Homo sapiens: one gene and its partner. The protein of the gene in region 2 purifies or fractionates together with the protein of the main gene of each other region. This does not show direct contact. Each region holds a gene or a part of one and is shown on either strand. Other genes may lie near its edges. The genes, in order: SHPRH and HLTF.

Evidence for each region.
Region 1: the proteins of HLTF (region 2) and SHPRH purify together in Homo sapiens (affinity purification with western blotting; 2 studies listed by BioGRID and IntAct, with this or other methods). This does not show direct contact.

What each region holds. Positions count from the first base shown.
Region 1 is NC_000006.12:145,958,958-145,970,442, forward strand, and holds the start of SHPRH (E3 ubiquitin-protein ligase SHPRH), read right to left. Parts: upstream 5,402-11,485; 5' UTR 4,774-5,401; intron 1-4,773. UniProt on the Homo sapiens protein: E3 ubiquitin-protein ligase involved in DNA repair.
Region 2 is NC_000003.12:149,040,523-149,052,092, forward strand, and holds part of HLTF (helicase-like transcription factor), read right to left. Parts: intron 9,854-11,570; coding exon 9,710-9,853; intron 8,480-9,709; coding exon 8,341-8,479; intron 7,642-8,340; coding exon 7,506-7,641; intron 5,738-7,505; coding exon 5,558-5,737; intron 1,769-5,557; coding exon 1,644-1,768; intron 1,159-1,643; coding exon of another isoform or gene 1,147-1,158; coding exon 968-1,146; intron 1-967. UniProt on the Homo sapiens protein: Has both helicase and E3 ubiquitin ligase activities. Possesses intrinsic ATP-dependent nucleosome-remodeling activity; This activity may be required for transcriptional activation or repression of specific target promoters.

The DNA of each region.
Region 1 (11,485 bases), on a different chromosome or scaffold from region 2:
GAGTAGCTGGGACTACAGGCGCCTGCCACTATGCCCAGCTAACTTTTTTTTTGTATTTTTAGTAGAGACGGGGTTTCATGTGTTAGCCAGGATGGTTTTGAACTCCTGAACTCAAGATCTGCATGCCTCAGCCTCCCAAAGTGCTGGGACTACAGGCGTGAGCCACCGCGCCTAGCCGCATTACTTTATTTTTTAATAAACTTTGTGTAGCATAAGTGTACAGTGTTTACAAAGTCTACAGAAGTGTACAGTAATGTCCCAGGCCTTCACATTCACTCCCTGACTAACCCAGAGCAACCTTCAGTGTTATAAGCTGCATTCATGCTAAGTACCCCACAAAGGTGTACTATTTTTTATCTTTTATACCATATCTTTATTGTACATTTTCTATATTTAAATATGTTTAAATATACAAATACTACGGTGTGACAACTGCCTACAGTATCCAGTACCGAATATACTGTACAGGTTTGTAGCCTAGGAGCAGCAGGCTGTACCATAGAGCCTAGGTGTGTAGTAGGCTGGCGGTACCACCTAGGTTTGTGTAAGTATACTCTTAAGATGTTCACACAACAAACTTGCCTATGATGCATTCCTCAAAACACAGCCCCATCATTAAGTGATGCATGACTATAAATAAAATTAAATGTTATAAACTCAGCTCTTCAGTCTCACTAGCCCCATGTGCTCAGTAGCGCTATGTGACTAGTGGCTACTGTACTGGACAGCACAAATATAGAGCATTCACATAATTGCAAAAAGTCTATGTATCAGACAGTGCTTGTTTAAGTCAATCATGAGAATTCTATTCCCTTAGCCCGTGCTTCACTTATGAATGTGCAGGTGATGGATTAAAATCAATCCTTGGCTATGGTCAACTACTTTTAAAGCATCTTATCCTCTCTTATCTTAGTGGAATAATATAGAAAGCTCTTAATTTCCTAAGTGTTTATGTTTGTCCAGTTTTCCTCAAAGCATAAGCTGGAATACTGAAAGTGGGTCACTCTGCAGGAACTTTAAAAAGTTATGCTATAGTAGCTTATCAGTTAACTACTGCCACAAACATGCTGTGTAACACACTACCTCAAAGCTCAATACCTTGATATAGCAATCATTTATTCTCATAGATCTGCACATTAGCTGAAGGAGGCTAATCTAGGCTAGGTTTCTGGAAAAGCAGTTTGGCTCTGCTTAATGTAGTTCCTATCCCCTCTCCTTGGATCAGCAAAGTAACTCAGGAATGTTCTTTATGGCAATGGTTGAGGTGTATTACTGCAAATCCAATCACACAAGTAGTTTTCAAAGTGCTTAAAAACCACTAAGGTGCCACAGACCAAAGCAAGACATATCCATGGACCCAATGTCAAGTGGTGAAGAAATATACTACACCTCTTTACTAGGTGAAACTGCACATGGCAAAGAGCATGGATATGGGGGGTGGAAGGGTAGAGGGAGTGTTGGAAGGGAATTGGGCCAGTTACACAATGTATCACACTAACCATAATAATATTAATAACATGGTTATTGTGGAATCATTAACTCTGAAAACCCAAAAAGCAACTGTCTAGCAGAGTCTCACATTAGCAAAGCGATGTGGCTTAAAGGTGAGAATGCAATGCTTTGAAGTCTTATATTCATTCTAATTCCAGCTTTGGCATTTACTGACTGTGTGGCATTGGAATAGTTATCCAGTCTTCTGTGCCAATTTTCTCATCTCTAAAATGGGGATGATAGCAGGATTGTGGTTAGAAATAATTTAAGTACAACAGCAGTACTAGAAATTTGGCCTGTATTCCATAAATGGTAGTTGCTACTTATCATCATCCTGAGAACACTCTAAACCAGCAGTTCCCAACCTTTTTGGTACCATAAATGGGTTTCATGGAAGACAAGTTTTCCATGGACCGGAGGAGAGGGGTGGAGTGGAGAGGGGGTTGTTTAGGGATGAAACTATTCCACCTTAGATCATCAGGCATTAGGTTTTAATAAGAAGTGCACAACCTAGATCCTGCGCATATGCAGTTCACGATAGCATTCATGCTCTTATGGTAATCTACTGACTGTTGATCTGACAGGAGGCACAGCTCAGGTGGTAATGCTCGCTTGCCCGCAACTCACCTCCTGCAATGCAGCCCGGTTCTAACAGGCCACGGACTGGCACCGGTCCATGGCCTGAGGGGTGGGGACCCCTGCTCTAAACCACATTTCACAATAACCAAACTGTAATGTCGCAGGATGGGGGACCACAGATTAGTGCTTCTCAAACTTGACTGCACATTAGAATCACCAGGGGAACTTAAAAAAATCCTGATGTCGAGCCAACTAAGTCAGAATGTCTTGGAGAAGGGCCCAGGCACTACTCCCTTTATTTTTTAGAATCCCTAAAAAATTCCAGGGTGCAGCCAAGTTCAAAAAACCTTGTTATGGATAACCAGCTGCCAACTAAAATCCACTTATTTCCACTCAAAGTATAGAGTAGTTGAGAAATGACTGCCCAGCTTGGTTTGGTCCTGTGACCAGTCCTAGCCAATGGAATGTGAGAAGTAATATGTGCCATGTTTCCCACAATAATTTTGTAACAGACATATTACCAAACCAGAAAACATTACTTCAACTATTTATTCTGTTCTCTGGTAAAACCTATCCAGTATCTTTTAAATTATGTACACCATTATAATTTGCACATTCCTTCAGATGTATTCTTTCAGCCTGATTCTTCCAATATTAGTGCCTCAAGGTACTTATCAGTGATAATGATAAACTGCAGAAAAGTCAACACCAGAATTTCTAGCAATGCTCTCCCTTTGTCCAGTTCTTAACTGAGTAAACATTCATGATCAAAAATCAACCAACCAAACAAAAAGCTCCTGGTTTTGACTGAGTCTTTACTTAAGGAAATCTCTATTCAGGGTTAACTTCTTGAACCAAAGAAAATAGTATTTGGTCAAATATACTTATGACTAAAATGCAATTTGGCAACTAGTAAGTCAAGTACTGGTGAAATTCTGTATCTAACCACATCCCATATTCTTCTGGTTTTATTCATACCTTATCAGTCACAACTACTTCTTCCTCCTCCTTAATTAGCAGTGTTTGGGTAAAACGTAATTATGTGAAGTTTTCTATATGGACCGCACTTTTACTGTCTTGTATTTAAATATAAAAGCCTTTTGCTTGAATTGCTTTTATGCCTGTCTCCATCCCAATCTTCCCTGGAAAGGCTTCCATGACTAGAGAAGCTGAGTTAAGGGCCTCTCTCTCCTCGATCCCAACTGCTAGAGTGTTCACTTTGAAAGATGGGCAGGAGTAGTATCCTATTCAGTGTTGTACTCCCAATGCCAGGTCAGTGCTAGGAAGTAAAGACATACAAAAAGGGTGAAACAAAGATCTCTAATTCCGTGGATGTATTCCCTCCTTTTGAGGACCTAACGATACTTTACTCTTATTTCTTTTTGGAGAAGTCTCTCTTATCCACATTCTAGAAGACTATAGGTAATATGAAACTAGTATTTCTGAGAAAAATGAAATACTAGAACGAGGCAGGGAAAACTGCCTGAACTGTATCTTTAACAGAAAACAAGGATGGAATGCTAGAAAAATAAACATAAAATGTTACATTACTAAGACAATCCAACAAATGAATAACACAACTTAAATTCACATTTTTTCCCTCCAAAATATTATTTCCTCTTTAAAAGATACACACAAATCTTGAATTACAACAAATCCATGGTAGATCTGGGTTTAGGCTATTAAGGGCAAAAAGGATTACATACTTGCCATATTCCTGTCCAAAATGTTGTGTTATGGAAATGAAGCCCACTCATTACTAAGTACTAGGAAGCTCTTAATGACCCAGGGTTAACATAATCTTTTCCTTTTCTGTAGAAATAATTCCAGCAAGGTGAGAGTATTTTCTTCTACTGAATGCTAAAATATGCTAGTTACATAAACTTTAAAAATGCCCTCATAAGAAGCTTTTTCACCAGCAAATTGTTTCCCCTAAATCTTACTGGCCTAAACTCTTAATAATAAAAGTTTTGTTTTAATAATTCTGTAAGTCCAGCTCCTTTCGGGTGGACAAAGAGGATATACAAGAGCATCTCTCAAAAGTAAACTATTTTATTCTCAATTGCCAGCTTACTGGTTAACTGGTCCTTTAAAGCTCTAGAAAGTGCAGGTTATCGAGCACAGACATAATCATTACAATACTGCTCAGGACTGCTCTGTCTCCAGCATGTTTACTAATCATAAACTAAATAGTCTTTTTTGTGACAGTAGAGATATCATGGATCGTTTCTATTCAAGAGTTTCATCATTCCTACTAATGCCCACTGGAATAATTTAAAGTAACAGTAATAACTTTATCTTATTTTGTTCAGAAAAAGCCCCAAGTTCCTTAAGTTCCTTAAGTACAAGTTGGAAGGCATCAAACATCTCGGATTTCTACCTCGTGCTAATGTCAAACTACTTGGAAAAAGGGCACAAGCTTCCTGGTCATTATTTAACTGATCATTATACAGTGACTATTAATCATCAAATAACACCCTATCTTCGTTCATAAACATAGCAACTACCAGTCAAACTGTACAATGTCAAAGAGTGGTTCTGAATTCGAATGTAATTAATCTGGCTCCAAAGGTAACGGAGAACTTTGAGTGGGACTGAGAAACCTCTGCCTCCCCTTTTACTAATACAATGCCGCGCACAAAGAAGGGAGGCGGCGACCCAGTTCCAGCCTCCGGGGGTAGATCTGCGGCGCACGGTACCCACTCAGTTATCTTCCGAAAGACCCACAAGCGGCTCCCGGAGTCTGAGCGGGGCTGTCAGCGCCGGATCGCTCCCAGCAGGCCGAGCAAACAAGCGACCGCGAGGCCAAGGAGCGTGACGACGGACTCCCGGATCCTAGTGTGTTGGACGCTCGAGACAAACACCGCAGGCCCCAGTGCATGAGGAGAAGCACAGCCTCCTTTCCCACGACCCCACTTTATCCCCGGAGGGACGTGGTGGTCCGAAGTTCGCTAGTCCGGGATCGGGAAGAGGTGGGGAAGACTCGCGCAGCGGCTCCCTCTCAGCCCTTGAGCTTCCCGGGCTCCAGGACAACCAGCGTCCTCCCTCCCTGGTCCCGGAGGCCAAAGACCACCTCCCTCCCTCCCTCCCGACCTCTGACCCCTGACCTTCCATCACCCAAGCGCCTACCCAAGCTGGTTCTCCGAGCCTCTTGAGTCTGTTTGCACCAGGCCTGCGCTCCTCTACAGACCCAGCAGATCACGGGCACGCATTCGCCACCCACCGAACATGGGCTTGAGGTGGGCACGAGCGCTTTTTGCCGGAACGTGTAGGGGTCCCCCGGGAGACCCAGAAACCACAGCGCCTAGCTGCCGGGCGCGCGCTGTAGCGTGGGGTCAAGGCGAACGCGCTCGTCAGAGCACCCCGCCCCCTTTCTCCTGCGCTGGCTTCATGAGTCTCTTCTGCGCAAGTTCACACTGTTAAAAACTTGCTGAGGATACAGTGGAGTCTCGCGATAGCTCTGCCCCACGCCATTAGAGAACACAGGATGGCCGAATGCCCGAAGTAGGGGGCGGGGCTCCCCTTGAAGCGAAGGGCGTGTGTGATTTGTATCTCTAATAAAAAGGCAGGGGCCAGGAGCGGTGGCTCACGCCTGTAATCCCACCACTTTGGGAGGCCGAGGCGGGCGGATTTCCTGAGGTCAGGAGTTGGAGAACAGCCTGGCCAAGATAGCGAAACCCCGTCTCTACTAAAAATACAAAAATTAGCCGGGCGTTGTGGTGCGCGCCTGTAGTACCCGCCTGTAGTCCCAGCTGCTCGGGAGGCTGAAGCAGGAGAATGCTTGAACCTGCGAGGCAGAGATTGAGTAAGCCGACATCTCCCCACTGGGTGATAGAATGAGACTCCGTCTCACAAAAGAAAAGCAGAAAAGAATTCTGCAAAAGCATCTATTTTACTGCTATAAAGCAGCCACTAAGTAGGTACGAATAAAGCTTCTCCCCCTCAAAAACAGACTTTAAAGGGAAATGTGAATAAATATTCAAAGATGAGAGAAACTATTAAATACATGTGTTGCGCTGAAGCTGGCCTTCCACTATTGGTCTTTTTTCCTCTCACCTCTTCCTCATAGAAGTGACCTTAATGTTGGAATAACTCTGAGAGGCTTCAGGGTCAGGAGCCTGTGAAATAACCCTCAGGAAACACTGGGGACTCAGTACTTAGTTAGTGAGTACCTAATAGCAGCTTTTCTGCTGTGGAGGCCTTTTGGGTTGTGTGACCACAGAAGCACTTGAACTAAGTTCTTGTCCAAGTGAATATCGGTTGTAGTTGTGTTAGACAGTCCAGGGTAGTCCATATTTTACTTAGTATATTCCTTTATCACAGATACGAAGCTGTTTCCATAAGCAAATCCCCGCCTCCTTTTATTTTGCTTCCCTTTATTGTACTTTGCAGATAATATGTTTTCCTATAAATTGAAGTTTTTTGGCAACCTTACTCAAGCAAGTCTGTCAGCATCATTTTTCAAGCAGCATGTGTTCACTTGCTGTTCATCTGTTATGGTGATCTATGATTAGTTATCTTTGATGTTACTATTGTAGTTTTTTGGGAGCATTACAAACTCTGCTCATAGAAGATGCTAAACTTAATAAATGTTGTGTGTGTTCTGAAAGCTTCACTATTGGCGCCTGTCTCTCTTCCTCTCTTCAGGCCTCCCTATTCTTTGAGACACAACAATATTGAAATTAGGCCAATTAATAACCCTACAATGGACTATTAAGTGTTCAAGTAAAAGGAAGGGTGGCACATCTCTCACTTTAAATCGAAAACCGAAGGAATTTAGTGAGGAAGCCATGTCAAAAGCTGAGATAAGCCAAAAGCTAGGCCTCTTGTACCAAAGTTAGCTAAGTTGTGAATGCAAAGGAAAAGTTCTAGAAGGGAATTAAAAGTGCTACTCCAATGAAAACACAAATGATAAGAAAACGAAACAGCCTCATGCTGATATGGAAAAAGTTTTAGTGGCCTGAATAAAAGATAAAACCAGCCTCAGCATTCCCTTAAGCCAAAGCCTAATCCAGAGCAAGGCCCTAACTTTTTTCAGTTCTGTGAAGGCTGAGAGAGGTGATGAAGCTGTAGCAGAAAAATGTGAAGCAAGCAGAGGTTGGTTCATGAGATTTAAGAAAAGAAGCCATCTCCATAACATCAAAGTACAAGGTGAAGGAGCAAGTGCTGATGTAGAAGCTGTGGCAAGTTTTTCAGAAGATCTAGCTAAAATAATTGAAGCAGGTGGCCACACAAAACAACAGATTTTCCATGTAGATAAGACAGCTTTCTATAGAAAGAAAAGGCCATCTAGGACTTTCATAGCTTCTAAGCTTCACAGGACAGGTTGACTCTCTTGTTAGGGGCTAATGCAGCTAATGACTTGAATTTGAGGCCAATACTCATTTATCATTCTGAAACTCCTAGGGCCCTAAAGAGTTATGCTAAATCTATTCTGTCTGTACTCTATAAATGGAACAATGAAGTGTGGATGACAGCACATCTACTTAACAGCATAGATGTACAGGATATTTTAAGCCCACTGTTCAGACCTACTGCTCAGAAAAAAAAAAGATTCCTTTCAAAATATTACTGCTCATTTATAATGCACCTGGTCACCCAAGAGCTCTGATGGAGATGTACAAGGAGATTAATGTTGTTTTCATGCCTGTTAACACAAAACCCATTCTGCAGCCCATGGATCAAGAGTAATTTTAACTTTGACATCTTATTATTTAAGAAGTAATAAGGCTATGGATGACATAGATAGGAATTCTTCTGATAGATCTAGACAAAGTAAATTAAAAACTTCTGGAAAACATCCACCATTCTGTATGTCATTAACAACATTTGAGATTGGTGGGAGAGGTCAAAATATCATTAATAGTAGTTTAGAAGAAGTTGATTCCATCTCTCAGGAACTCAAAGTCTCAGCTTTGAAGGGATTGAGACTTCAATGGAGGAAGTAACTGCAGATGTGGTGGAAACAGCAAGAGAGCTAGAATTAGAAGTGGGGTCTGAAGATATGACAGAACTGCTGCAATCTCATAGTAAAACTTTAATGGATGAAGAGTTACTTCTTATAGATAAGCCAAGAAACTGGTTTCCTGAGATGGAATATACTCCTGGGAAGATACTGTGAACGTTGTTGAAATGACAGCAAAGATTTTAAAATATTTCATAAATTTAGTGGACAAAGCAGTCCAGAGTTTAAGGGGATTGACTTGAGTTTTGAAAGAAGTTCTACTGTTGGTAAAATGCTATCAAAGAGCAGTTCATATCATGGAGGAATATTTTGTGAAATAAAGAGTCAATTGCTGCAGCCAACTTTTTTAAGCAATATTTTTTAAGCAAGATTTTTTTTAGCAATACAATATTTTTTAAGTTAAGGTAGATACTTTTTTTAGACATAATGCTATTGCACACTTAACACACTACATTGTAGTGTCAGTGTCACTTTTATATGCACTGGGAAACAAAAAAAATATCCTGTGACTTACTTTATTGCAATATTTGCCTTATTGTGGTAGCCTGGAACAAAACTTGTGATATCTCCAAGGTATGCCTATAGATGGAAATCAGTTACCTTATTCCAGGATTTATGAGGCAAGCTGGAAAAAGTAGTGCTAATGCTGGAACAGTGGGCAAGTAGGATCCTCCTTCCTTGGCAAACCAATCATTTTATCAAATACAAGGTGATGTAACCTTGCTTCTGAAAGTGTAATTTGCAACTTGCTATTTAAACATATGATGTGCTGAGTAAGGTTATCTTTGATAGTTTTATGTCACTTCTCATCATTGGAGCAGATAATTAGGCCCAAAGTTTGGCTGAGTCTATCCAACTAGTGCTAGGCAGAAATATTTAAAAATAAGCACAGCATCATTTCACCTTTGTTCACCTTGATTGGGGTAATTTATATATGTAATCATGGTAATGTCCATGCAAGATATTAAACTTCAGATCCAGTTGTCTGTCGTATGGAGATGCAATTTCAACTGTAGAGATGGAATTCTGTATACTACCATTCAGTGATTAGAATGAAACAAAATTCTTTTAAATTTTCCAGTGTTCAATCCTATATTTACCAAATGCTCTGCCTATTCTTTGAAAAATTTCTCTCTGGAATAATATTTTTCATCAGAGCTAATTTCAGAAAACATGGTTCATGATTGCACCTTGGCTCTCTGGCAGCTCCCAGCTGTGAGACACCTGTTCACCCCTGAGTACACTGAGTTCATCCACCTATTAGATGCTAGTGATCTAATGACATTCCGCAAATCAGAATGAACTGATTGGACATCGTGCATCTTGACAGTGAATAACTCAGTGTTCACGGAGTTCATCTGCTCCTTCTTGAAACTATAACATGAGATCAGTCAGACCACTTTCTTCCTTGTATGGTCTCACTAGCTTTAGCTGTAGGTTCATTTTCTTTTAGGGACAGTGGCTTTATTCTAGCCATACCCCTAACTGGGGCATCTATTTTACAAATGAATATTCTAAGTTGTTCTCAAGGAGGAGGACTAGTTGAGAGGGAGTAGAGGAGTTAAGACAAATTTAACTCCCTTTAGGGACAGAAACAAGATAAATGATGATTTATCAGTGAAGAACTTTATATTTTGCAAAGCCCTTTTATGTTTATTTTTTTATTTGATCCCTAGACTAGTAATAGGCTTTTAAAATTTCCATTTTACAGGAGAGCAATCTGAGACTCAGAAATTTGGTAATTTGCCACAATTTAGCTGTAAGAGAACAAGAGGACCTAAAACTCTTTATTCCTCTGTCTAGGCTATTGTCTCTTATTACTAAATCATGTTGTCTATCAAATAAAAATATACAACTTAGTCCTCAAACTTACTAAGTAATCATGGGCAAACTGAAGGCAAGAGGTGTGTCATTACTTAATGACATAGGGCTTGTATATCAACAATAAGGATCATTCAGTACAAACACTGTGTTCTCCTGAATAGATCATTAACAAAATGACTAGAGAAATTTATTCTGTATTCTACCTACCTTTGCCAGCTCTCTGGAAACAAAGTAGGTGGCCCACCCAGTATGATTGGGGATTCCCAAAGATGACTCCTTGTTGCCAATTCCTACTACCAACCTGTCTTGGGACTGCTTTCCCTTCTGACAAATTGAAAATATTAGGATCAAAGTCTCCGCTATTCTGGAATGAATTACAACGTCCAAAACCACTGGTAGAATGCATGTAGTACCAAAAAAAGAGTGGGAAGAAGAAACATGGTCTTGGAAAATTGGTGCTAGCAGGGGTCATCAGCTATGCTGAAAGGAGTGGTATCAGATCAACCAAACATAAAATGGTACCAAGGGTCGGACATGCTTTGCAGGAGCATGAGCAGGATATATCAGGGACAGGAGGTGTGCGAATTGAACCCAAATCCTCATATTTAGAACTTTACAGCTTTTCCCTAGACTAGACCTGGGTAGATTTAATTGTTAATTTTGTTTCATTTTTCCTTGATGATTTACAAGTTGGATTGGTTTCAAGCCCAAAGTTTGTTCGGTCTCCCCTGCTGCAAGCTCAGCCTGAAAACTAAAACCTCAAGCTGTGTTCCTTCTGCCTCTCATAACTTCTAAAGCAAAACTTGTAGTCTGTACACAAAATGCTGCAATGGACATGAACCTATGACAGTGTTTGTTTTAGGTGTGAATAAAGCAACGATTTAAATTAGGTAAAAGCAAGAAGGTTGAAGGTGAATCTGCTGGTAAGGAAAGATAGGAGATTATATTCAGTGTTTAACAATGAAGATAGTATAATCTGTATCATAGGCTCTCCTTCCCACCATCCCAGAGCCTCCCCACCCTCCATACCCAACTGTTACATTTTCCCCTAAGGCATATTTTTTCAATTAATCTTGTCAGTATGGTGTTAGGCATTAAAGAATAGGAATATTGTCGACGACTCTGTCGATACTTATGACTCTGAGTAATATTTATTATGCAGTTTTGAGATCTACAAGTAAAATATTCTCTGAGTATTTCAAGGGTCACAATCGTGTCATTTTGAAGTACAAAAATAGTGGATAGCACTTTCAGAATGCATCTAAGACCTCAAGAAATCTTTTTTTTTTGATGTATATATATAAATTTATTATACTTTAAGTTTTAGGGTACATGTGCACAACGTGCAGTTTTGTTACATATGTATACATGTGCCATGTTGGTCTCCTGCACCCATTAACTCTTCATTTAACATTAGGTATATCTCCTAATGCTATGCCTCCCCCCTCCCCCCTCCCCCCACCCCACAACAGGCCCCAGTGTGGGATGTTCCCCTTCCTGTGTCCATGTGTTCTCATTGTTCACTTCCCACCTATGAGTGAGAACATGCGGTGTTTGGTTTTTTGTCCTTGTGATAGTTTGCTGAGAATGATGGTTTCCAGCTTCATCCATGTCCCTACAAAGGAC
Region 2 (11,570 bases):
CTTAATGGCTTATAAAGCTATTAAGCTTATAAAGCTTATAATAGCTTATAAAGCTACTAGGATCTGTTAAATCCTATCAAGTTCATTCCAAAGCAACATCTGTTGTACCCGTTTGAACCTGTTAATAAAATAAGATTATATCTTAAATAACTATATATAAAACACCATTACAATTAAATAATTCTGAAGCTAAAATTATTTAAAAGTCAATACAGTGGGGTTACTTTTGGGGAAGAGGGAGAGGGTAAATGGTTGGGAGGGGCCACAAGGGGACCTAGGCAGCAGATACAGGAATATGTTTACCTCATAATTGACTGAGCTATTTAATTATGAATTTATACATTTTTTCTACATATGTTATATATCAATTTAAAATGTTTAAAAAAATTCTACCCCAGCTGAATGACTGCTTAACAGACTAGTCAACTTCAAAAAAATTCTACCACACAAAAGAATCTAGACCTACCTTATCCAACACAATAGCCAATAATCACATGGGGCAATTACGTCCTTGAAATGTGGCTAAGCCAAATTGAGGTGTGCTGTAAGTATACACCACCACCAAATTCTGAAGATTTAGTTTTTTGTAAAAAGCACATTAATACTTTTTATATTTTAGATATATTGGGTTAAATACAAATGTATTAAAATTAGCTTAATGTTTCTTTTTACTTAAGAGTATGACTACTAGAAAACTGAAAATTATCTTTGTGTCTCACATTATCAATCCATTTATTGAACAGCAATGATATAAACAGCGGAATTAAGATATTGACTGTGAACATCTTTTTATGTTGCAAATGTTGCATTAGAAGAAATATATCACCTATTAAAATACTGGAATAATTAACTATCAAAGGTATATTATTAAATCCAAGTGCAAAACTCCATATACTATCTTTTATTATATTAAAGACAGGTACACTACTCTATCAAACACTGAACCTGTACTGAGCAAAAAACTAACCTGCTCATTCTGAATGACTTGGCAAATACAGGGTTTACAAAATACATGTGCACAATGTGTTATCACAGGAACTGTTAAAGAATCCAGGCAAATTGCACATTCCTCATCTGAACCTGAGCTCAGAATTAACTTCATCTTCCTTATTAACTTCTTTCTCAGTTCTTCAGGTGTATCATTTCCTAGAGAAAAGGCTGAAAAATTAATTTCAGAGCAAGGTTTGTAATATGACAAGTTAATCTATCTTATAAGGAAAAGTTTCGCTTGCCAGTAGGGAAAGTCTCTCATCATTTTCTGCCATAGGCAAAAAGCATAATTTAAATTTGAAATTTAAGAAACATTCAGAAGCCAAAATAGTAGCCAACTCACATAATATACCTCATAGAGAAGCATCATTATAACATGACAATAACATACCACCACACAATAAAAGGCAGATCCAATATGAATCTTTCATCAAAGGGTATCTATCACCGGAATTCCTGGAAAGACCTCATTATAATTCCATTTCATTGGTAAAAAAATTATTGGATGTATTCCTAGCTGAGTCTCACACTAAAAGCAATCTCCATTTGACAGAACAAAATAAACTAAATGTATGCCACATAAAAAAAATTTATCACTCTTATTTAAGTATCTCTGACAAATACAATGATATGAAGCAATCAAATTTACCTACCTGAGGGGCCATTGGAAGACACTGCATTTGTAAGAAGGTAAGTATGGCAACAAATTTGCCGCAGTCTAAGCAAAAGACCCAGGACATCTGCATAATGTGCCAGGACAGTCCCTTCATTAAAATACCTAGAGATTAAAATGTCAAATATTATTAAGTCCGCTAAACAATAATAACTTCCTATTCTAAAACAGCAGAGTAAAATGGCATTTTTCTTTTCTTCTCTAGAAATTACTCCAAAACAAGAATGAAAAGCAGAAAAGCAACTCTAATAAAACCAAGAGAGATCTATAACAATAAGGCACAATATATGAGAAATGGCTGCCAATTGCAGTCTAAGTCAGATAGGAAGATGCTGAGAGGGATGACTGCAGATCTCAAACAGAGCTGCCAAAACACAATTCTTTAAAATGGATGGCATGCCCTGAGGGGAAAATCAATACCTCTCATGTGCAGAAACAGGAACAGGGTGCATGCTTGGTGACTTGAGCTTCCATGGAGAAATTTATATCAAAAAAAGAGGGAAGGTAAACTGAATACAGAAACATACAGGTGCACTGTATTTTCAAAAAAAGACTATGGGCACAGCACTCTACACTCCAAGCACCCCTAAAGTTTCTGATCTCTGTTTATGTGTACTAATAAAACCTAAAGTAACTCAACATGTAACCCTGAGTCTTAAGTAAATTGGGTTATTTCCTGCTGGTCGGGGACATGATTGTGACCTTTCCCTTTTGTATATCTGGACTAGCAAATAGCTAGTCCAAGAAGAACTCAAGATATTCAAATATAAGTAATAATCAGCAGAGAGCAAAGGTAGGGGACACATGGCAGTGAAAGAAAACTCAGCAGAAAAATGTTGCCACAGAGCAAATAAAAATTATGACCAAGGATACTGTCACAATTTAACACCACTCAATAAAACAATTCCTCCAAAAAAAAAAAATCTTAAAGCAAAGACAAAGAGCTTTGAAAAAATATGGCAAGAGAACAGGAAGAGATGAAAGATGAGCTGGTATGGCTCAAGAAAGTGAAAGAAAACAGTGAATCATCAGAGAAATGAAAGTCACACTGAAACCAATATAAGCCAATATAAAAAAAGACTAGTCACTGATAAAAACATAGAAAAGGATGTAGGAAACAGGACTGAGAAAATCAAAATTAAACAAAAAAATGTAAAAGATCAGAAATAAAATGATACCTATGGAACACAGATAAAAGACATCTAACATACACAGAGAGAAATAAAATAATGGAACAGAAAACAATATTTAAAGAAAGCTTTCCAGGAAAGAGAAGGGGGGAAAAGCCTGGAATCTAAAGATTTAAATAATATCACATGTCCCAGGGGAAAGTCAACAAAGAAGTTGCTGAACTTCAGAGGGAAAAAAAAAAAAAAAAAAAAAACCAGGCTTCCCCACAGAAACATTCTATACAAAATACAGTGGTACAATGACAACATAGATTCTTAAGGAAATGGGTGATCCAAAAATTATATAACCAGGCCATCTGATATTTAAGTATTTTAAGGCAACAGAAGAAATATAGCCTAACGGCTAAGAGTACAAATTTTTAGAGCTAGCTGGTCATGAATTCAAAACCTGGCTGTGCCAATTTAATTATGTAACCTTGGACAGGTTGCTTAACCTATGTCTTGAGCTTCCTCAGTTCTAACAGTGGCATTGTAAAAGTACCTACCTCATACAACTACTGTTATTTAATTTAATACATGTAAAGTATTTAAAATAGTGCCTGGACTATATTAAGTGCTATACATGAATCTGTTGCTAGTATTAGTACTGGTAGTATTATGGCAACAAACATTTCTGAATATTCAAGAATGCAAGGAATAGGCAAAATAATACAAAGATTAAACTTACAAGCTCTAAACCAAAGTGCCAGAGTTAATCTGTCCTGTCACTCACTAGCTGTGTGACAACAGTGTAAGTCACCTAAACTGCTCTGTGCCTCAGTTTCCTCACTTATAAGATGTGGATAATTATACTGACCTAATAGGATTGCTGTGAATACATTTAAAGCACTAAGATCAATGTATAACACCTAGTGAGTGCTAAATAAATGTTAGTAAATATATAGCCTATTAAAAAGAATACTTTAAAAATAACTTATTTTCTGAGAACAGTTTCAATAAAGTTAATCTTTTTCAACTTTTTCAAATAGAATAACCTTTACTAACACTAATTATTCCCTGGCATGGTCATATCTTACTGATACTCAGCATTTCAATTTAAGAGATCTCTTTTGAGTGCCTACCATGTGCTAAATATTAGAAGCTTCCTTCCTCCTATTTCACCAGCCATTGCTATCTTCACAGTTAGATCTCTTTCACTTTACTCACTCCCTTGGTGATCTCATGGCTTTAATTACCATCCACACATAGCTGACTTTGAACTCGACTCTCCTATCCAACTAATTATTTGATATCTCTACTTGGAAAATTCACGGGCATCCTATGATCAATGTGTCCAAAACTGAGCTTCTGATCTTAGCTTAAAAAAATCTCTGCTCTTCCCATAGACCTGTCTTGGTAAACAGCAATTCCAGCCTTCCACTTATGCAGGTAAAAAGGCTTGAAGTTATCTTTGATTCCTCTTTCACATGCCATAACATATCAACCAGCAAGTTCTGTTGGTTCTACGTTCACAATTTAACAGAATCTAATCATTTCTCACTCCCTTTATCACTACTATGGTAAAAACCACCATCATCTCTTGCTTTGACTGCCACTGGTCTCCCTACTTCTGACCTTATTCCTATTCAAATAACCTAAATCTGAGCACAGCAGCCAGAGTGATCTTTTAAAAATATAAATCAGATTACGTCCCTCTCCTGGCTCAAAACCCTTTAAGGTTTCCTGTCATAAAAAGTAAAAGCCAAAGTCCTTGACATATGCGTTACATACCCCCATTCCAATAAATCTCTGATATCATGACTATTTTCTCTCGTTCATACTATCCAGCCACACTTGCTTCTCTGTTATTCTTCAAGCTCACCAGGCATGTTCCCAACTGGGAGCATCTACACTTGCTCTTCCTTCTGGCTGAAACACCCCTTAATCCCAATCTCCTTTAGATCTTTACCTATATATCATCTTCTCAGTGAGGTCTTCCTTAATACCCTACTAAAACAGCTTTGGCATTCCCCATCCCCTTTCGTTGCTTTATTCCTTAAAACTTAATCATGTTTTTAAATTATCTGTTTCTTCCCATTAAAATATAAATTCCTCGAGTGCAGGCATTTTTGTCTGTTTTATTCTGCTGTATCCCAATGGGTATAAGTGCCTGGCACACAGTGGGCACTTAATAAATTTTTGTTGAAAGAATATGAAAAGAAAGAAGATTTTGAACTCAGAAATCTGCTGCTTAGAACAATCTTTCCCACTCTCTCTAATTCCTATCAAACCTGCTTTGTACCTACCTCACTGAAGTTTTTATGTTTTGAAGATTCCCCTTTCACAGTCCTATTCTGCTTTCACTTGTCTCTTATTCATTCTGTTCCCTGTGGGCTCACATTAAACCTGATCTTGCTTGGACCAGAATTTCATACCTTCTACCAATCCTTAATCTTCTTGTTAAACCTATTTCATCAGTTCCTATTTCCAGATTTCCATACGATTTTGGAAATAGAAGCAAGCAAAATCTTCTGGCTAGCAATTGAGAACTTGTCATTTAAAGTAAGCTTTAAATTATTTCCTAACTTAAAAAATTACTTACCTGGTGAATTATACTATTATTTCATTCACTTTATTGATTTGTAAAAAACACTGTAATTCATAGAAGCAAATTATCTTTCAGTATACTTCAAACTATTGCTAACACATCTAAATAATGTCATTCAGTGAATGGGAAACAAAGTAAACAAAAACTAATTTTTAACATGGTTTTCTTTCTCCATACCTTCCAATAGTGGCTCTGCCTTCATTTTTCACAGACTGATAAATCTTTCTCTCTTCATCTGAAAGTGTAATGTGCTGAATAAATACTTTACGTTCTGGTAACTCCAAAACAGGTTTTCCTTTAATTTTGCTTGTCTTTGTTCTTCTAAGTGTAATATTTTTAATTAGGGACTGTAAACGCCTAATCAGAATAAAACAAATAATTATGTAACTTTTAATTTCTACATAAATTGATCCAAGAAGAACGAAACAGAACATTTTAATTTGTTACTGTTTTATAGCTTCTGTAAAAGTGTTTTTAAAATCCCTTATTTGGGATTTTAACCAATCTGATAATCACAGAAGTATTCTACAAAAATAAAATTATTAAAACAAATGTATGGAAATTTCCCCTCAATACCTAACATAGTTTAATCTTTTTATATCCTGTCCTTATTTTCGTAAGTTCTGTTCCCCATTTTTGTTCCAATCACTAACTCTTTTACTTCTCAACTGTCCTGTCAACTCCATCACCGAATAGTCAACACTCAAATTCTAAGTATCTATTAAGTGCCAGGCACTGAATTAAATGTTGTAAGAATACAAATATGGGTAAGATACTACATTCTGTAATATTAAAATCAAAAGTATATAAATAAGTAATTGTATAAAGTAATGAGTGCCCCCAAAATAAAAAGATAATATGGTAATTCAGAACACAGAAAAATGCTTTACAGGTTCCACAATCTTTACATTTCTTTCTCAGTACTGGAAAAAAAGAGATGTATCAATTCTTGTTTTTTCCCAACATTGAAATATAAATACAATTTCCTGGAGTTTAAATAGTTGGTTTTGAGGAATCAAGTGGATAGTACTGCCAACTAGGTTAGTGGCTCTTGAAGCTTTCTCACTATAACTCACAGTAAGAAACACATTCTATCCAGCAAAAATATACAAACACATACAAAAGAAACAAATATTTCACAAAATAATACTTACTATGTATCATGCACTCCGATATTTACTAATCTCTTCTCTATTTCATTGTCTTTTTAAATGCTGGCTACCACCTTTATAATGATTTTATATCCCACTAATAGCTCTCAAATCTTCAGTCTATAAACCGGTGCTTTAGCCAAAAAGTTGAACCACATTACATCTTGCAAAATGGCTATCACTGAGTTTTAATTTATGTTCTCAACTTTTATCTATCTCCACCAGAAACAACCACATAAAACTTTCCTATACAACTTTTGCTAAGGTCATGGTACCTCACATCATTCACTATATAAAGCTATGTAAGGCCAGGTGTGGTAGCTCATGCCTGTAATCCCAGCACTTTGGGAGGTCGAGGCAAGAGGATAACCTGAGGTCAGAAGTTTGAGACTAGCCTGGCCAACATGGCGAAACCCCATCTCTACTAAAAATACAAAAATTAGCGGGGCATGCTGGCGCAGACCTGTAATCTCAGCTACTTGGGAGGCTGAGACAGGAGAATCGCTTGAACCCAGGAGGCGGAGGTTGCAGTGAGCCAAGATCGCGCCACTGCCCTCCAGCATGGACGACAGAGCAAGACTCCATCTCAAATAAATAAATACATAAATAAATAAATAAAGCTATATAAGATATGAAAACTTAATGCATATTAGATCCTCAAAGGATATACGATGTTTCCTGCTAAATCTGTTAATGCTGGTTTTGGGGCTTTGGGGCTTAGCAACACACAAAAAACAGTTATGTCTTTCCTTTCAGTTTAGCCACAACAGGGGAAGGGTAGTTATCGACAATTAGAAATCTTTGTCTTTCCAAACAAGCATCACTAGGTTCTGAAAGACAAAGGTACTGAGCCATAAACACTTTTTAGAAGGAAAAGTTAAGAGTCAAGTTAAAATAGTAAAGAAAGTGCCAACTGGTTCAAGCTACTAACAGTTATTTGTAACTAATATTAATCACTGTCTGAAAGTACTTACCTAAGTCCTCCTTCATCTCCCATTGTGACAGGACGCTGTATTGTTCTATGCCACCATTCTCTATCAATAAATGGTTTAAGTTTTAAAAAGGAAAGAAGAGACCACAAGTCCTTTAAAGAATTCTGGATTGGAGTACCTAGAAATAACAGGAAACTGTTATAACTCTTTAACCAGAGTATCCAGTAAGAGTATCTATTTGGCCCAATCAGAGAAGACAACAATTGAAAATGGGCACTCTGTACCAGGCTCATCATTATCAATTAAATTAAACTATCAAGTGTTGACTATAATCATTTATTAAAAATATACACATCTCAAGATACAGTTTTGCTCTAATTTTTAGCTCTCACATGACACACTAGCCAAGAAAAAGACTGGAAAATTCAACTTTCTCCTTATCAAGTACATCTGCTTATTTAGTTTTTAAAGCAGCAGCACTAGCAGAAGGAAAAAGCAACTAGTTTAAGTTTACATTCTTTTCCTTACCTTCTAGTAAAGGTACTGTGAATGGCAAACAGGTTTGAGGATGGGAAACAGAAATCAAGATTATGACTGGATGACTAGAGTGTCTACTCCATTTCCACTAGAGTGTCTACTCCATTTCCAAGGTTCAAGAATAAGTCTAGTGACTGTTCCATAAATTATCAATAAGTCAAATGTTGTTATATCACGGGCAATTATGAAGAACAACTCAAAACATTTGATTAAATTATTTATATGATTAATTTTGGGGCAGAATTTACACCCACTTTAAGTTTACAAAGTTACTTTACTAACTTACATAATGATATATTTTAGAGATTTAAGGTTTTAGTAAGTTTAATGCTATGATTACCTGTCAAAACCCATCTTCTTTCTGATTCTAAGTCAAGTACAGCTTTTGTCTGCTGAGCATTTGGATTTCGTATGGCATGTCCTTCATCCAGGATCACTCTTAGCCACCTTATGCTATGTAATGGACTATCTCCTTTAGTCTGAAATAAATGTTTTATATGAATTAAAAAACACAGGAAAGTAAAATAGTACTTAATATGATTTGCTAACTAGTTGTTATCATTATTTAATATCAAATTTACTATGTGCTAGGTACTGCTTTAAGCACTACATTAATTATTGAATACTCACAAGTTTATAAAATAAGTACTTATTAGCACACCTAATTTTACAGATAAGAAAACTGAAGCACAAACTGCTAAGTAAGTATGTTACCCAAAGCACCACAGGTGGCAGAACTAGCATTCAAACCCAAGCAGCAGTCTAGCTCTCTGTTGAGTCACTGGTCAATACACTGAACTGTTCTACCTCGGATTAAAACATAGCAATGATATAGAAAATGGCAGTTGTAAGAATTACTTGAATTCAACATTACTTTCTTTTATATAAAAGGTAATATTTTTACTAGAAGACTGAAATTTTGATAGCAAGGTATTTTTCAAAAAGTTTTAACTTTTGAACAATTGGAATTATAAAGGTAAAAAACAATTAGACTAACTGGAAAACTTATGAACTGTAACTACAAAAAAAGCATACCTTCAAACTGAGATATTAATCAAATCATTGTGATAGAAAACAATTTTCCAGAATATTAAAAAAGAAAATAAAATTCATTTACAAATTGCTTCATATACTTACAATCCAAATTTAAAATCTTAACTTAAAATGTTCTAAATGAAAAATATTCCTGTCTGGGTGTGGTGGCACACGCCTGTAATCCCAGCACTTTGGGAGGCCAAGGTGGGTGGATCACCTGAGGTCAGGAGTTCAAGACCAGCCTGACCAAGATGGTGAAACCTCATCTCTGCTGAATAACAAAAATTAGCTGAGTGTGGTGATGCATGCCTGTAATCCCAGCTACTTGGGAGGCTGAGGCAGGAGAATCATCTGAAACCAGGAGGCAGAGGTTGCAGTGAGCTGAGATCACACCATTATATTCCAGCCTGGGCAACAAGAGCAAAACTCCATCGAGAGGGAGGGGGAGGGGAGGAGTGGAGAAAAGAAAAATACTCCTAAATTAGCATCTAAATAAAATGCAACCCTTTCACGCAAAAAGTCAAAAAAAAAAACCATTTATTTTTCTATATATCGTTAAGTATCTAAAGAGAAAAAAAAAGTATAAAGCCTGAATTTTGGAACACTCTAGAAACCTGTGGCATATTTCTTACATTCAATCTTTAAAAGATCTGTTAAGTATCAACAATACTTACTCCATAGTCATGAGTTAAAATATTATACGTAGTCAAAACAATATCCTGTTTTGAAAGTAAGGCCGGTTCTCTAATACGATCAGGACCATAATAAACATAAAAATTCAAGTGTACATCTGATTTTATATGTTGTCCAAACTGGTCCTAAAGAAAAATTAGGAATATTTTTAACAATGAGCAGATTTGTGTCAGACTTAATAGATGTATAAAAAAGTAACTGCCCTGGCAGTAGTGTGACAAATCCAACTACTAAAATTGTATGAAATCAAGTTTCCTTCAGTCTAGACCAAAATAATAACAATAAGAAAAATGACACATACACAGTAATAATAAATTATTTAAAATTTACTTGGCCCTACCAATCAGCAACTGCTTCATTTTTAGGAGGAAAAACCAAAGTTATTGAAAACAATAATGAGTTTTATAAAAATATTTTAATTAGAAGGCCCTTTAATGCTGCATTAGTTAGCAGACTTAATAATATAAAAATTAAACAGTAAAAGAACAACAACCAATATTTCCAAGGATGTGGGCAGAGATTCAAGCACTGTAGCCACTTTCTTTCACTCATTTATTATTGGCCTACTATTTGCCAGGTATCAACCACAATAGTGATGTAACTAAAAATGAAGAACAAATAATCATCCCTGACTTTCTTGAGGACATGATCAGTTTTAAAAACTTATTATTATTTTTTTAATCATGAAAAAAACCAGACCTAGAAGATTTTCAGCAGAAAAAAATAGTCTGATTAAACTGAAAAGAGAAGATACCAGGGAGACACAGCTGGGAAGCTATGAGGAGAGAGATGATGAAGTCCTAAACCAGCAAGGTAGAAGTAGGAACAGGGTGGAAAGGACAGGTGTGAAAAACAGAAACTAAGACAAGACTGATAGGACTTGGGGACTAATGAAATATGAAATATGAATAATAATAATAAGACTAAGATGCTCTGATACTTGAATGACTACCTAGAATTGTGTGATAAAAATATAAGGAAGTTTAAAAAAAAAAAAAAAGAAGGGAAAAGTGGGCATCCAAGTAAGAAAGAGATGAATATTTTAGACCTTTATCATTTTTGGTCACTATAGAATACCTAACTGAAGACGTATACTAGGAAAATGTAAATAATTACCTATAGATAGAAGTGAGAGGTGTAGATATGAATTTTAAAGTTAACAACAGACAGTATTTACAGCTGTAAGAATGAATGAAATTTCCTAAAGAGAGCATGTACAGTGAGCAAACGTTAGGGACAGAGTCTACAGAATACCGGTATGTAAGGAGAAGACTTGTTTTTATTGGGAGAAAACACATGATGCCTGGGGTATAATTAAAAATATTCCAGGCCAGGTGCAGTAGCTCATGCCTGTAATCCCGGCACTTTGGGAGGCCAAGGCGGGTGGATCACTTGAGGTCAGGAGTTCGAGACCAGCCTAGCCAACATGGCGAAACCCTGCCTCTACTAAAAATACAAAAATTAGCTGGGCATGGTGGTGATGGTGATGCGCACCTATAATTCCAGCTACTCGGGAGGCTAAGGCATGAGAATCACTTGAACCCAGGAGACAGAGGTTGCAGTGAGCTGAGACTGTGCCACTGCACTCCAGCCTGGGTGATGGAATGAGATTCTTTCTTTAAAAAAGGCCGGGTGCAGTGGCTCACACCTGTTAATTCCAACACTGGGAGGCCGAGGTGGGCGGAACGAGGTCAGGAGTTCGAGACCAGCCTGATCAACATGGTGAAACCCCATCTCTACTAAAAAAACAAAAATTAGCCGGGCATGGTGGCATGTGCCTGTAATTCCACCTACTCAAGAGGCTGAGGCAGCAGGATCACTTGAACCTGGGAGGTGGAGGTT